Linked DNA regions of Homo sapiens: region 2 is linked to region 1. A link means that fine-mapping ties the variant in region 1 to the expression of a gene that starts in the linked region. Tissue or cell type: whole blood. Region 1 holds a variant in brackets; the other region holds the start of a gene. All regions are shown on one strand. Distances are from middle to middle.

Region 1 (8,101 bases):
AAGGGAGGGAGAGGAGGAGGTGTTACCTAATATTGGGTCCATGGACTACATAGCCTAAAAAAATCTATAAAATTTCAAAACACACCTGGCTTCAAGGGTTATGGATAAGGGAGTCTGGGTTGGATCTGAAAGGGGGCTTGGTTGTGGGGTAGAATTTCGATGTTTGGAAGGGATGTGGAGGGATGTTATGAAGAGGAAGCCTCACGCCATACCACCTTGGGTCTTGGTGTTAAGTCATTATCAACCATTACATTTGCTTTAAAGCAGAGATGACTTACATTTCTGATAACTACTTTCCCTTAATTCATGATTCACACACATTTGGAGGGCTGGACTTTCTGGGTTTGGTTATTTCCCCTGGTACCAATCCCCGCCTTTTCCCAGAAATCACTTGACTTTCCCGAAAACTCAGAAACACACCCTTTGGCTGAAAAATAGCATTAAGCAATCGGTGAAATTCCCCATTCCTCCTTTCCCCGCTGGAGCCCTGGATAGAGGGCTCTCTGGCCTGGGAGGAGGACGCTGTCCTTGTTTCAAAAGCAGAGGGAGCTCCAAGATCAAGGCTGAGTTTCCCTAAGTCATGGTCTCCCAGCCCCCTCTGTTTAGATCAGGGAATTTCAGACATGCACACTCGGGTAGGGAATCTTATGAACAGAACCAGGACAGGGAGGCTGGCCGGAGGTTCCTGCAGAGGGAGCGTCAAGGCCCTGTGCTGCTGTCCCTGGGGGCCAGAGGGGTTGCCCAGCATGCCCACTGGCAGGAGAGAGGGAACTGACCCACTTGCTCCTACCAGCTTCTGAAGGTAAAATCCTTACAAACGAGGAGCAGAGCTTTGATGGAGGAAAAAGGAAAGGCAGAAAACTTCACGTAGGAGGGCTTGGGGCAATGATAGAGGGCTGACAAAGGCAGCATAAAAAAAGGCAGAATATAGACAACCTATTTCTCTTAGGCTCACCCCATCCACCCCTACTTCACCCCCTTACCTACCACTGTTTTCAGGGTTAAAGCAATTTTAGCAACCCTTTACTAGGAACTGTGGGGAGATAGCTTGTATTTTCAGTAAGTTGGCGGTGGGGGGCAGGGACAAACTCCAAACAAACTCTGGAAAACGAATGTAGGAAGTTTTTATGTTCCTTGTCATTTGGCTGTCCCTTTTCTCCTTCCTCGCACAACCCTGTATCAGTGGGGCAGCACTTCCTTCTCAGACCGCTTGTCCCAGGGTCCCTGCCTTCCCCTAGTGAAAGAAGCTCCTGCCTCCATCGGTGGGCGTTGGGAGCATCAGCGGAGATGCACGCAATGATAAACAGCAGACAGGGCTGCTTGAGGAGATGAGGTGATCACGGTTAAAGAAGAGGGGCTGTCCTACATGGATGATCATGATGCGCCAAGACTGTTGAAAACCTGAGTGGAAATGGGAGCATCGTTCTTGAGGGCAGGAGAGAGACTGATACCGCGGGGGTGGGGCTGGTGGAGGACAATAGAGGAAGAAGAAAACTGGGAGAAAGTACTCGATTCCTTTGGAGAAAAATTAGGAGAAAGTCTAGAGAAGCAATGAGGGAAGGATACAATTTAGCTATAGTCTAGAAAGTTAGTCGAAGTTAACTAGGGAGGGTGTGAGGGGCACGGTGCCATGTGGGGATGTTGGTGATATGGCCCTGTGTGTTATACCTTTGAAGGTGACACTGAGCCCCAGGTGACGCCGCACCACCAAAGAAGGTGCTTGTGTTTGTCAGACAAATACAGCCAGGCCTGCCACCCCTTAGGCTCCAAAGTCCGGAGGTGCAGAAAGCCAGGACCAAGAGACAGGCAGCTCACCAGGGTGGACAAATCGCCAGAGATGTGGTAAGTGATCAAGGGTCCCTGAGATGACACAGACTCCATTCCCTTCATCTTCTCAAGAAAAGCGCTCAAGGGCCAGGCATGATGGCTCACACCTGTAACCCCAGCACTTTGGGAGGCTGAGGCGGGAGGATTGCTTGAGCCCAGGACTTTGAGACCAGCCTGGGCAACATAAGGAGACCCTGTCTCTATTAAAAAAAAAAAAAATTAGCCCAGCGTCATGCGTGTCACCTGTGGTCCCTGCTACTCAAAAGGCTGAGGTGGTAGAATCACTTGAGCGCGGGAGGTCAAGGCTGCAGTGACCTGAGATCGCACCACTGCACTCCAGCCTGGGTGACAGAGTGAGAACCTGTCTCAAAAAAAAAAAAAAAAGGGCTCTTGTCTGAAGCCTGGGTTTTGGTTTGACCTGGGCCTTTTCTTTATTCCGACCTAAGATTCTCCCCCATGGCCGATTGACTGCCTCTCTTCTTCCCCCTTTCTTCTGCCTCTGGCAAATAGCGCGTTCTGTCCTAGGCTACTGGTGCCTGGTCACCCGCCAATCTATGCCTCTGTTTTTTCAGGTGCATTGTCCTGTTTTCACTTTTGGCATGGGTTTATGCTGAGCCTACCATGTATGGGGAGATCCTGTCCCCTAACTATCCTCAGGCATATCCCAGTGAGGTAGAGAAATCTTGGGACATAGAAGTTCCTGAAGGGTATGGGATTCACCTCTACTTCACCCATCTGGACATTGAGCTGTCAGAGAACTGTGCGTATGACTCAGTGCAGGTATGTTATAAGCACAAAAAGAATAGAGATGGAAGACTAGGGCTAAGGTAGCGGAATAAGGATGTGGGAGGGAGTGCCACCTGTACTCACAGTGAACTGGAGTCAAGTCCTAGTGGCATAAATGTTCTATTCTCTCTGTCCCTTCTTTTAACTCCATACCAAAATATTACCCTTTCCTAGATTTTTTTTTTGTGACTCTTCTCTTAGATAATCTCAGGAGACACTGAAGAAGGGAGGCTCTGTGGACAGAGGAGCAGTAACAATCCCCACTCTCCAATTGTGGAAGAGTTCCAAGTCCCATACAACAAACTCCAGGTGATCTTTAAGTCAGACTTTTCCAATGAAGAGCGTTTTACGGGGTTTGCTGCATACTATGTTGCCACAGGTAAGGCTCACCCTTCTGCATGTGCCTTATTGACCCAGCTAAAAGATTAGAAATGAGAAATCCACTGAGCAACACATTGAATGAGGATTCTGTTCGTAATTCTTATAAAAAGTGTTGACTTGGCCTGGGTCGCTCCATAAATCACTTTTGTGAAATTCAAATGCATGATCATATCTTAGTGGTGATGATGATCATGGTAATAACACATAGTACATAATAAACAGCAATTTGTTGAGAGCCACTATAAACTGGGTATGTATTGGGGATTGGGGATTTTTCCTATTTTAACACAATCGTCACTTTAATCCTTCAAGGTAGGTATTATTTGCTCCATATAAAGATGAAGAAAATAAGGACTAGGAAAGTTAATAACTTGCCAAGAATCACACAAGGAATGTGTAGTATTTAAACCCATTCAATATATGGCATTCAAACCTTCAAATTCTGGGTACTTCTGTATCTCTCTCTAGGTTAAAATGAAGCTAGGACATCTCATAAAGCCAAACTATTGTTTAGATTTGACAGAAGGACCAACATCATATAAAGCAATGAATGTACTGATTCCTCCCTGCAGAAGGCATCGTCATGATGTTTACCTTGCAGAGTGTCATTCCTGGAGCTGAAATGCTCTGTACATGAGAAAAGTCAAGGATCTCTGACATTAAGAGCTGCCTAGGCCGGGCATGGTAGCTCACACCTGTAATCCCAGCACTTTGGGAGGCTGAGGCAGGTGGATTACCGGAGCCCAGGAGTTCAAGACCAGCCTGGCCAACATGGTGAAACCCTGTCTCTACTAAAAATATGAAAAATTAACCAGGCATAGTGGTGGTGCGTGCTTGTGTTCCCAGCTCCTCGGGAGGTAGAGGCGTGAGACTTGTTTGAACTTGCTTGAAAATGTGGAGGTTGCAGTGAGCCAAGATCCCACCACTGCACTCCAGCCTCGGTGACAGAGTGAGGCTATGTCACTTACACACACACACCCCCGAGCTTCCTTATAGCTGTGTAGTGGTAGGGCTCAACTCTGGAATCATATGTCAGGAGAGTAATATGGAATAATAGTAGCCTGAAATGTGATCCCTTGACGGATCTTTAAGCAATAGGCCTTTCCTACTTTTTCTTACCCTTATGGTTTTGGATTTAACCTCATTCTCCCTTCTTGGTGTTTGTTCTTGACCTCAGCCTCTTTCTACTCTTTGTAGACATAAATGAATGCACAGATTTTGTAGATGTCCCTTGTAGCCACTTCTGCAACAATTTCATTGGTGGTTACTTCTGCTCCTGCCCCCCGGAATATTTCCTCCATGATGACATGAAGAATTGCGGAGGTGAGCTTGGTGTTAAGAGGGTTGCATGTTCCCTGGGATTTGGAATGGCTGAGGCCTCAGAAAGGGCTTTGTCCACCCTTCCAACTTCGATTAGGCCAAGCCTTCATTTGGCACTTCTTTTTTATTTTAGAATTTATTTATTTATGTATTATTTTTAATAATTTCAATAGTTTTGGGGGTACTGGTGTTTTTGGTTACATGGATGAGTTCCTTAGTGGTCAATTCTGAGATTTTAGTGCACTTGTTACTTGAGCGGTGTACACTATACCCAGTGTGTAGTTTTCTCGCCCCTGTTTCAACCTCCTCCCACGTTGAGTCCCCAGAGTCCATTATATCACTCTGTATTGGCATCTATTCTTAGTTACTCATAAGCTGAGATGAAGCCACAAGAAGGAGGAAGATAAGACTATAGGGTAAAGTTAGTTAATTGGATAAGAGAGATAGATGCCTGTAAAGGGTCTACTGGGGGCTGTTCATAACCAGAAAGGCTCCATCCTAAGCAAAGTGATGGAAACCTAATAGGGATTGGGTATTCCTACTGATACGTATTGCACGTGTAATTGCTCTATCCCTCCAGTTAGGGCAGGGATCTCAGGTTAGTTTGAATGCAGGACTGTCAGTTTCTGAGAGAAGGAATCATAGAATAGTGCAGGAATTCCTTTGCTTGACCCTGTATTTGATTCTCC[CTTTCTCTT/C]TTTCTCTGTTAGTTAATTGCAGTGGGGATGTATTCACTGCACTGATTGGGGAGATTGCAAGTCCCAATTATCCCAAACCATATCCAGAGAACTCAAGGTGTGAATACCAGATCCGGTTGGAGAAAGGGTTCCAAGTGGTGGTGACCTTGCGGAGAGAAGATTTTGATGTGGAAGCAGCTGACTCAGCGGGAAACTGCCTTGACAGTTTAGTTGTGCGTGATGGTTGATTAATACCCCACCCTTAACTTACACAGAGAGATCTCTCCCTGAAGACAAATTTTTTTTTCATACAGCATCTTTCTCTGTTGCTCAAGCTGGAGTGCAGTGGTGCAATCACAGCTCACTGTAGCCTTGATCTCTTGGGCTCAAGCAAGCGTCCCACCTCAGCCTCCTGAGTAGCTGGGCCCACAGACGTGTGTCATCAAACCCAGCTAATATTTTTATTGTTATTCTTTTTTTTTTTACAGAGATGGGGTTTTGCTATGTTGCTCAGGATAGCCTGAAACTCCTAGCCTCAAGCAATGCTCCCACCTCGGCCTCCCAAAGTGCTGGGATTATAGGTGTGAGCCACTGCACTCAGCCTGAAGATAAAATTATCTTTTCTCCTGACCCTTATTTTCTTCTTATTTTATGTGACATTTAATGCCTCTTTTATTTGTATCTCCCACTTCCCAATTTTACCTCTTCCCTTTAGTTCTTTCCCTCTTCTGATTTCATCATTTTGTTCAGTTTGTTGCAGGAGATCGGCAATTTGGTCCTTACTGTGGTCATGGATTCCCTGGGCCTCTAAATATTGAAACCAAGAGTAATGCTCTTGATATCATCTTCCAAACTGATCTAACAGGGCAAAAAAAGGGCTGGAAACTTCGCTATCATGGAGATCGTGAGTAACTTAGAAGTGCCTCTTTGGTTGGTGATACCAAAGTCCCCAAACAATGTGGGATCAAAGCAGGTAGATGATCCAGGCACACTGGAAGCACCTGTGATCTCAGCTACCGAGGGAGGCTGAGGCAGGAGGATCCCTTGAGCCCAGGAAGTAGGAGTTTGAGTCCACTCTGGGCAACAGAGCAAAACCTTGTCTCTAAAACAAAACAAAAACAAAGCAACAATAATTTAAAAAACAGATAGATTGTTGTTCTGATAGAATCCTGAGATACTTCACTTCTTCAGGAAAATCTAAACCAGTCAACGGTTGCTAGAAATGCCTCAACCTCTAGTAATCCTTTAACTAGACCTGAGACTGCAGACAGCTTGCGGGTGGTTAGTTGGTAATGCCATATGATTTTAGACATCTGCTGTATTGGAATGTTAAGCATCAGGATTGAGGACAACTGGACGATTTTAGAAAGTGTGAGAATGATGTAAATAGAATGAGAGTCTTCAACTATTTAGTAATTTTTTCCTCCTGTCCCAACTTCTGTTCTTTCAAGCAATGCCCTGCCCTAAGGAAGACACTCCCAATTCTGTTTGGGAGCCTGCGAAGGCAAAATATGTCTTTAGAGATGTGGTGCAGATAACCTGTCTGGATGGGTTTGAAGTTGTGGAGGTAAAGTACCACCTTGGCTTCTCCCCAGTCCCTGGCCCCAGATCAGGATGAGCGGACTGAAATTGTCCAGTTGTTTACCCAATGTATGTGTGTGATCAAGGTATAACACCTTTCCCATAAACACAACAGCTTAAGATCTGTAGTTCTCCCTTGTGAGTCATGGAGCTGCCTGGCCAGCTTGGCATTCTCTCTGCCTTCAGTCTTCTTGAGGAAGGGGAGTTGACACGTTGGGGCAAAGCTTTCTGTCAGCCTCATCTCCTGGGTGCTTTAGGTCTGCTAAGATGTTCCCAAGCTTCTTGTGGTGAGGACTCCTCATTGATCCAAGGCCAGAGATCAATTCCAGTTTTGATTTTGGTTTCCCATATCTCTCTTCAGAAATAAGTGGTGATGTTTATTATTCTCCAGGGACGTGTTGGTGCAACATCTTTCTATTCGACTTGTCAAAGCAATGGAAAGTGGAGTAATTCCAAACTGAAATGTCAACGTATGTGTCTCTTCAAAGTGGAAGTCTTTCTTTTTCTCTCAGAGAGAATGGAAAGATCAGCACATCAAAATTCAAATGCATGGTTTCCTCTTAGGCATGTGAGGGAGTGGGTTGGGTTTTTGAAGGGAAGCCAGTCATGGAAGCTTTTCTAGTCCCAGCCCCGCATCTGGTCCCAGGCCAACTAGATCGGCATGTTTCTTTCCAAGAAAGGGGCTATGGGATAGGTCGAGTTAGTAGCCCCACGTGGGTGCATTTGTGGCTTCCACTGGGCCTTCACCAACCACTGAGAACCAGGCTCTTCACTACGGCTTTCATGGGGCCATCTGAATTGGCATCTCAGCGGGTGAGAGAGCTGAGAGATGCCAGTTGGGGAGGATGGCCACAGAGAGGCTGGTGTGGGGAGGTTCATCCCAGGTGTGCCTGTGGATATGGGGTGGGGAAGCAGTGAGGATGAACCTGGCCCCATGACTCTTCCTTGGAGGAAGTGGCTGTCCTGACCATCGCTCTCCTTCCTTCGTCTGGTAGCTGTGGACTGTGGCATTCCTGAATCCATTGAGAATGGTAAAGTTGAAGACCCAGAGAGCACTTTGTTTGGTTCTGTCATCCGCTACACTTGTGAGGAGCCATATTACTACATGGAAAATGGAGGAGGTGGTAGGTTTCTTCTACTGGAGAAGAGAGAGAGAGAGTGAGAAGGTGTTGGAGGGTGGATAGCATAATCTGTGCCAGAGACAGAGTTTGGAGACAAATGAAGGCGATAGGACAGACATTGTTCATCCCCTTGGCTTCGTCCAAAGATACAGTTTTCATCTGGAGCAGGGCAAGTTCAGGGGAGCATCAGCCTCAGGGAATCATAGAGGTCACCAACTGAGTTCACAGCTGCAGCAGGAATTCCCCTACAACATCCATTTCATGGGATTACCCACCTTTTGACCAGTTATTTCATGTAAAACCCACAGGAGCAATGCCTTCAGCTTTAAGCCACCAAACTACACTGACTGGCTTTCTTGATGTAGAGGCTTTGGTCATGCTAGGTGCAGGGCTGAATGAGACCCTAAT
Region 2 (8,101 bases), 45 kb after region 1:
AAATAATCTTATTCGTTTTTATTAACCTTTCTTACATGTAGGCATAGTTCACATGTATTTCAATATTTAATATTAGAAGTGTTTGGGGTCTTTATTTAGAGGTTTGGTGATGTTTCTGTGATCAGTAATTGCTGTAGAAACTTCACTCTTGTCTATATCAATTAGCTCTATGGCCAAATTGGTTTCATTCTATGTTATTTCTCTTAAAGTCATACTTTCCAAGAACCTATGGATGATTTTAAGTGAGGACTCACTGTACCAAAAACAGAAGGATTAAGTGAAAGTCTACCTGCCAAACAGTGAGCTGCATCTCCCTCCACCAGGCCCTTTTCTCAGCTTGTTGACCAGAATGCTGGGGTCCCTGAGCTGGAATCTGCAGGAGTCCTCTCAGGGGAAACTGGCTGCCCCCAAATAAAATGCTTTTACATCCTGACAGTTGGGAGGCCCCCAGTGGCACATCTAGGTCACCTTGTCGATAACCCTATTTTCAAACCTATCATTTGACAAATTTTAGCTATCCACACAGAACTTCCAATCAGTATTTTAGTGCTCCACTCTTTTTTTTTTTTCCTTGAGACAGAGACTCACTCTGCACCCCACAGGCTGTAGTGCAGTGGCCTGATCTCGGCTTACTACAACCTCCACCTCCCAGGTTCAAGCGATTCTTATGCCTCAGCCTCCCAAGTAGCTGGGATTACAGGCGTACACCACCATGCCTGCCTAATTTTTGTATTTTTAGTAGAGACGGGGTTTCACCATGTTGGCCAGGCTGGTCTCAAACTCCTGGCCTCAGGTGATCTGCCTGCCTCGGCCTCCCAAAGTGCTGGGATTACAGATGTGAGCCACTGCGCCCGGCCTTAAATATGAATGGACAGCCAAGTATTATCAGATATCGTAGGAAAGTCTCTAACACAAAAAGCAGAGACCAAAACAGACAAACGGTAAAAAAGAACTTGGATGAAATAGACCCACTATAGAGAACAGAAGAAACATCTAAAAATAATCCCAAAGGAGGGAAAGGAGTTGATACTGCATCAATGAAACAAGAACAATACTCTATAAAAAGGCACATTTAGAAAATTAGAACGAATCCTTAGAAATGAAATAATATGTCAGTGGAAAGAAACCATTAACTAAAAGATGGGGATTTAAAGATGAGAAAATTTCCCAGGAGGCAGAACAAAAGAGATGGTAAATAGAACAAAACAGATAACAAAGCTAGAGAATCAATCTAGAACATACAACAGCTGAATTATAGGAGAAAGAGAAACTAAGGAAATGAGATATCTGGAAATTATTTAAAAAATAGCACAAGAACATTCCTAGAATTGAAGGACTAGATTAAAAGAGGCTCTAGATTAAAAGAAATCTGCACAATGAGTAAAAAACCACGTGTATCAAGAGACATCATAATGAAAGTCCAGAATACTGGTAATAAGGAAAATATTCCAAAAGTTCTAGAGAGAGAAAACAAAGGATTAGGAATGATAAGGGCATCAAACTTCTTAACAAAGTCTAGACCTAGAAGACAATATCATCAAAATTCTGGAAGAAAAAGGTTTCCAATCTAGAATGCTATACCCAGATCAACTATCCCTCCACTGTGAGGGTAGAACTGAGACATTTAGACATATATAAGATCTTCTAAAATTCACTCTAAAATACCCTTTCTAAGGAAGCCACTGGTGAAGGTGCTCCTCCAAAATGGGAGAGTAAACCAAAAAAGAGAAAGGTATGGGATTCAGGTTCAGCACAGGTAAAGGAAATCCCCAGAAAGAGGGAGAAGAGAACTCCCAGAATGTGTGACGGCTTAGAGAGCAAAGAACTCAGGCTGTGAAAATAAATCGAGAGATCTTCAGGAGGGATGTCACCAATTAAAAGGAGGACCGATAGACTGAAATTCATGCTTGAGTATTTCAGAAGAAGATTTACACTCCTGGTTAAGAGTCTGGTGAGATTAGTTACAGAGACAACTAAGCAAACTAAAAAGCAAAACAAAAACAAACACCCCCCACCAAAAAACAAAACAAAACAAAACAAAAAAACTCCATGTAACTATTGACTCCTAGGAAACCCAAAAGTTGGAGAAGAAAAGAAATATAATTATTTTATGCTATGTGCTCAGATGTGAATATTTTACAGTCATAATAATGTAAATAATGAATAAAGATTTAACTAAAAATGATAATATAGGTAAACTGGCAGAATGAGGAGGGGAAATGTGGGTGGTGAAGACTGAAGACAGATAAAGCTAGTCCTTATCTTCTATACTGTAGTTGAGCATTAATAGAAAATACGTAAAAATGAAAGACAAATAAGCATGTTATTTATACATATGAAGTTAAAGACCAGATGAAACAGCTACATGAATTGGCAAATGACTGCTCCTGAGGAGCAGCACTCAGGGGCGGGGAGGAACAGCTTGGAGACTGCTGTTATTCATAAACCTTTTTAAAAACCTTTTTTTTTTTTTGGAGACAGGGTCTCACTCTGTCACCCAGGCTGGAGTACGGTGTCATGATCAGAGCTCACTGCAGCCTCTACCTTCCAGGCTCAAGTGATCCTCTCACTTCAGCGTCCCTTGTAGCTGGGACCACAGGTGCGTGCCACCACACTTGGCTAATTTTTAAATTTTTTTGTAGAGATGGGGTCTTGCTATGTTGCCCAGGCTGGTCTCAAATTCCTGGGCTCAAGTGCTTCTTTCGCCTCAGCCTCCCAAAGTGCTGGGACTACAGACATGAGCTACTGCGCCCAGCCTTAGAAAACTTTAATTAAAAAACAAAAAGTCTTACAACTATTATGTATCCATAATAATTAAAAATTTTAAAATTAAAAAATAAAGTTCAAAAATTTATGTCATTTTGATATAAATAAAATTTAAATCAAAAGATAATGTGCTCTTTTTATTTTTATTTATTATTTACTTATTTTTGAGATGGGGTCTTGCTATGTTGCTTAGGCTGGCCTTGAACCCTGGGCTCCAGCCCTCTGATCCTCCAGCCTCAGTCTCCTGACTATACTGCTGGGACTGCAAGCTTGCATCACTCCATCAAGTACTGTTTTTAAAATGTCCTTATTCTGAATAAGGCTTTGGCGTTAGAAGTTTTGTAATAGCTCTTCCAAGGTAAGTGTGAACGGTGACTTAATCTTTTGTTATTATTTGTGTCCAGCTTCCTCACCTGATAGAGCAGGCACTCAACAAATACATGATGACATATTTTTAACAACCAATATGTGCGTCCCTGCCCCTGGCTCCATAGATTTGCAAGATTTGTGTGTCCATTCATAAGCCTTCCAAACGCAGGGCCTGCTTGCTGCCCTCTTTGCTCTGTGGGGCCCAGATGGCAGCCCCGGAGGCGCTGGTGGGAGGCTGTGTCCTGGGGTCCACCACTGCTCCCCGGTAAGCCAAGCCCGACTGCCCCTACATGGAAAATTCATCCCTCCTCCAGATGGGGGATTCAGGGCACCGCCACTTCCCACAACCCCGGGAATCTCCCTGGCCACAGTCCTGGCGGGACCCCCCCCATCCCCAGCTCACTGTGACAGAGTCCCCTGCACAGTCCTGGGACGGCTCCAGGTCGAAGTCCTGGAAGACGAGCCTCACAGCAAAGCCCTCTGGAGCCTTGATGTCCGTGCTGCTCTCTTGGCCTTTGCCATACGGCTCTGGGTACCCGGGGGATGTCAGCTGCTGGGGTAGCTCTTGGGCCAAGAGGACGGAGCCCCGGGTTGGGCAAGCCTGGAGGACTCCCCAGAGAAGCAGCCACCACCTGTGAGTTGGGGGGAGGGCAAGGTGGGGCCGCGCAGCTATGGCCGGAAGCCTGTGGGTGTGGGAGGAGCGGGGGAGCCGCGCTAGGACTCAGAGGCCTCGCGAGGCAGGGCTAGAAGCTGTGGCCTCACCCTTGAGGCCCGGGCACTTCCCGTCTCCTCCCTTGCTCCCCTTCCTCACCCCAATCCCTACAGCCTCCCGCGCAGCCTGAGCTCTAGGATTGTGGGTTTTCCATCCTCCGAAGACATCACCTTTGCTCATCTCCCAGGAGAGTCTCGTCCAAAGGAGGGGGGTGCTTTCTGCTTCAGCAGATCCCACCCCACCCTGGGATCCGAGGGAGCAATGGTGGGGCGAGTGAGGGTCTGCCGTAAATATCCCCCGACCACCCTCTGGGAAGGTGCTAGAGGCCACAGGCAAATTTCAGTCTCCCCATGGAATATCTGCTGTGCTGCTGCTGCTGCTGCTGCTGGTGTGTGTATGTGGGGGAGGTGTGTGTGTGTGTGTGTGTGTGGGGGGGGGGGGGATGTGTGTGTGGGGGGGGTAGGGTGGGGGGAGGGAGGGTTTGCGGCCACCCACCCTTTCTCTTCCCCTCCCGTCCTCTTCCCTCCTCCTCTGCCGGGGCCACACTCACATTGCGCCTGGACAGCCTTTGGAGTGAGGGCTTCTCCAGAGATATTTCCCCCACACTCTGGGTCCAGGCATCTGGAACTGGACATCTGGGACCTGCGAGAGAACTGGCCCAGGATAGGGAACAAAAGGTGAAGGCCGGTGGGGGAGGAGGAAGTTCCTGGAAATGTTAAGCAACTCCACAGTTCCCCTTCTCCAATTCTCCGGGCTGAGCGCCACCTGCCGTCTGACTCAGGAACAGCGGGCCCGCCGCAGCTTAGGGGAGAAACGTCCAAAAACCTCGCTGGCCCTCAGAGGTCAGGGTGGCAGGGCACTGACTCGACCCTTTTGTACTATTTAACATTAATTTTTGCCATGTGTGTAGGATGGCTCCTTGTGAGTTATGGCTGCTGCCTTCAATCAGCCATGTCTCTTCCTCCCCGACCTTTCCGTTCACGACATACCCGGGGAGCCTCCCTCTTGTAGAATTGAAGTTTGTGATCCTTGAACTTGAGCTTTCTCTTCCTTTCCCTCCTCCCCAAGCAGGGGTGGGGGACATGCGCTTAGGTGGTCTTTTGAATCCTATTCACAACCTCTGGAGGCTGCTTGTCCAGCATGGTCAGGGCTGGGGTCGAGCCCAGGTGTCCCTCAGTCCCTAGTCCCAGTCATCACTCAAGCCGTCACTCAAGCTTCTTTAGGCAGATACTAGAGCCCCTGCCTGCTCTCACCGCTCCCCGAGGAAGGACACTCACCCACAGCTTGGTAGGAGGCCAGAAGGCTCTTATGGAGATGGGTGGTCCCATCCTCAGAGAAGGCAGGTGTGTGGAAGGCCTTACGTTGTATGCACACACAAATGCATGTGCGCGCGCACACACACCTCTCAGAGAAGAATCTATTGCTTCCCCCATTTTGCATATAGTAATATGGAGGCAAGTTACAGACCCAAACAGGGTGTGCTCTGCATCTTTGGTTTTTCTAGGCTAGAGAGATTTAGGAGAGCCACAGTCTATGGCTACAAGGAGATGATAAGAGAGTGATGGCCAGGACAGATGCAATGTCTCAGGTACAGTCTTGAGATCAAGCCTACCTGTCTGCCACACCCCAACCCCAAACACAACTGGGGATGATCTCCCATACCCATCTTCGAGGAGTGGGCCTCTCTGACTAGGACTTCTTTCCTCCCCTGAGACCACTGAAACCTGCTCTCTCATAGAACTCTTAGGGTCACCTGGAGCACCTTGGGAGCCAGAGATGCAGCCAAAGAGTGAACAATGGTACCAATCCCAAGACCCATGTGTTAAGAAGAAACCAGCCAAGACTCAGATCAGGATTGGGGAGTCCACCCCTCGTTTCCCTTCAGAGCATTATTTCCTTGTTTGCTAAGAGGGGCAGGAACTGGAAAACTCAGGCTAGCCCATCTGAGAAGACTTTCCTGGAGATGAGCTGGAGGAGGGAGGAGTAAGGCCTTGGAAGGAAACTCCAGGACAGGTAGGGTGACCGACTGTTCTGATTTGCGTGGGACCGACGGGTTTCCCAGGACATGAGGCTTTCCGTTTTAAAATGAGGGAAGTTCTGGGCAAGCCAGGACTGGTGGTCACCCTAAATGGATAGGGGTTAAAGTGCTGGAGTGAGGCTGGGTGAGAAAGAGGACAGGGAGCCAAGAGGGTGGGGAGGCAGTGATGCACCGGCAGCCCCAGGTGACTGGGCAGTCCAGGGTCTGGATGTGGTCCCTGTTTGGGGTAATCCAGCACTCTGAAGATGAGGGCCCACCTTGGTCTCACCTAGGTGGCGTGTGCGGCTGCAGCATGAGTTAGGGTCAAGGGCAAGGGGAGGAATGGCTGGTGATGTGAGACTGGAGAAGGAGCTGATGGCTCTGTGCATAGCTGGTCACTGCAGGCCCCTGTGGGCTAGGGCTGAGCTGTGCCCCGCTGTGTTTTCAGCACCACCTCCCCTACACTGGGACCTCGTCTCTAACTGGCAGAGTGGTCAATGAAAAAAAGGGCATGCCTTGGCACATCATGGTCAAACTGCTAAAAGCCAAAGACAAGAGAAAATCTTTTCTTTTTTTTAATCCCATCCTAAAGACTAGACAGAACAATATTTTCAATGTCACTCTTTTCTCATCAAAACCAATATAGACCAGAAGACAGTGGAATATCTCTAAAATGCTGAAGGAAAAAAAAAGTCAACTCAGAATTGTTTTTCTAGTGAAAGTATTCTTCCAGAATGAAGATGAAATAAAGCTATTTTCAGATAAAAGAAAACAGAGATTCTTGTCGCCAGCAGACCTCCACTATGAGAAGCGCTAAAGAAAGTTCTTTAGGACGGGCACGATAGCTCACGCCTATAATCCCAGCATTTTGGGAGGCCAAGGTGGGAGGATTGCTTGAGCTCGGAAGATGGAGGCTGCAGTGAGCCATGACGGTGCCACTGCACTCCAGCTTGGGTGACAGAGTGAGACGCTGTCTCAAATTGGAAGAGCAGAGCTGCAGACAGGAATAAGAAGAACGGTAAATTTGAAGGTAAATATAAAATACGATTTTCTTTTTAATGTCTTTAAAATATGTAGAACTGTTCCAGGCAAAAATTATAACATTGTATTGTGAGGTTTATAACATATGTAGCTGTAACATATATGAAGACTGTAGTATAAAGCAGGGGTCCCCAACCCCTGAGCCGTGGACCAGTATTGGAGGTGAGTGGTGGTGAGCAAGCAAAGCTTCATCTGTATTTGTAGCTGCTTCCCATCACTCACATTACCATCTGAACTTCGTCTTCTGTCAGCAGCAGCAGCAGCAGCAGCATTAGATTCTCATAGGGGCACGAACCCTATTGTGAACTATGCATGGAGGGATCTAGGCTGTGTGCTCCTTATGAGAATCTAATGCCTGGTGACCTGTCACTGTCTCCTATCACCCCTAGATGGGACCGTCTAGTTGCAAGAAAACAAGCTCAGGGCTCCCACTGATTCTACATTACGGTGAGTTGTATAATTATTAATATTTCATTATATATTACAATAACAATAATAATAGAAAGAAAACATGCAATGAATGTAATGTGTTTGAACTATCCTGAAACCATCTCCCTCTGGCCCCATCCCTGGTTTGTGGAAAAACCGTTTTCCATGAAGCCAGTCCCTTGTGCCAAAAAGGGTGGGGACTGCTGGTATAGAGGACAAGGGGGTGGACTCATGGTTACAAGTTTCCTTCATTTCACATGAAGTGGTACAATAGGAACTGAGAAAACTGGAGTTTAGGATGCAGACTAATTCCCAGAGCAGCGGGTCTCCACCCTGTGGTGTGGGAAGACCCACAGGCCCTAAGATCCTTTCACGGGGTCTGTGAGGTAACAAAATGACTTTCATAAAAATACTCAGATGTTCTTTGCTTTTTTCCCTCTCATTCTGTCATGGTATATGGTGGATTTACAGAGGCTACGTGATGTGCAATGATTCATCCGTGGCAGTGAGCGGGATGCGTGCTTGTGTATCTTTGTGATTTAAAATGTTCTCAATTTTGATTTCTAGTACAGTGACTATTAATAGATATACCCTACATAAGCCAAAGCTCTCTGGAGTTCTCAATAATTTTTTAAGGGTATAAAGTTTGAGAACAGTTGCCCTAGGGTGACTACTAGTAGAAAAAAGCAAAGAAGTATAGCTGAAAGGCCGATGTAGAAATGAAAATGGATGTCTGAATTTGGGGGGACTTTTTTCTAATAGGGTAA

What was found. PIP is the estimated chance that this variant, and not a neighbour inherited with it, causes the effect.
Region 2: it holds the start of C1RL-AS1, and the variant in region 1 is fine-mapped to the expression of C1RL-AS1 in whole blood (TOPMed, PIP 0.97).

What each region holds. Positions count from the first base shown.
Region 1 is chr12:7,060,076-7,068,176 of GRCh38, forward strand. C1S (complement C1s) reads left to right here and starts at 643. Exons shown (of 12, transcript NM_001734.5): 1 at 643-802; 2 at 1,764-1,842; 3 at 2,400-2,607; 4 at 2,815-2,992; 5 at 4,192-4,317; 6 at 5,025-5,224; 7 at 5,742-5,895; 8 at 6,443-6,558; 9 at 6,964-7,042; 10 at 7,568-7,696. The coding sequence starts at 1,838. RefSeq lists enhancers at 230-731, 732-1,231. The variant CTTTCTCTT/C (reference allele first, on the strand shown) is at 5,004.
Region 2 is chr12:7,104,713-7,112,813 of GRCh38, forward strand. It overlaps C1RL-AS1 (C1RL antisense RNA 1), which reads left to right and starts at 3,596. Exons shown (of 12, transcript NR_026947.1): 1 at 3,596-3,769; 2 at 3,961-4,235; 3 at 5,352-5,435; 4 at 5,586-5,860; 5 at 6,313-6,894; 6 at 7,295-7,352. It overlaps C1RL (complement C1r subcomponent like), which reads right to left and starts at 4,502. Exons shown (of 6, transcript NM_016546.4): 1 at 4,398-4,502; 2 at 3,539-3,767. The coding sequence starts at 4,468. RefSeq lists enhancers at 3,522-4,721, 3,554-3,723, 4,364-4,443.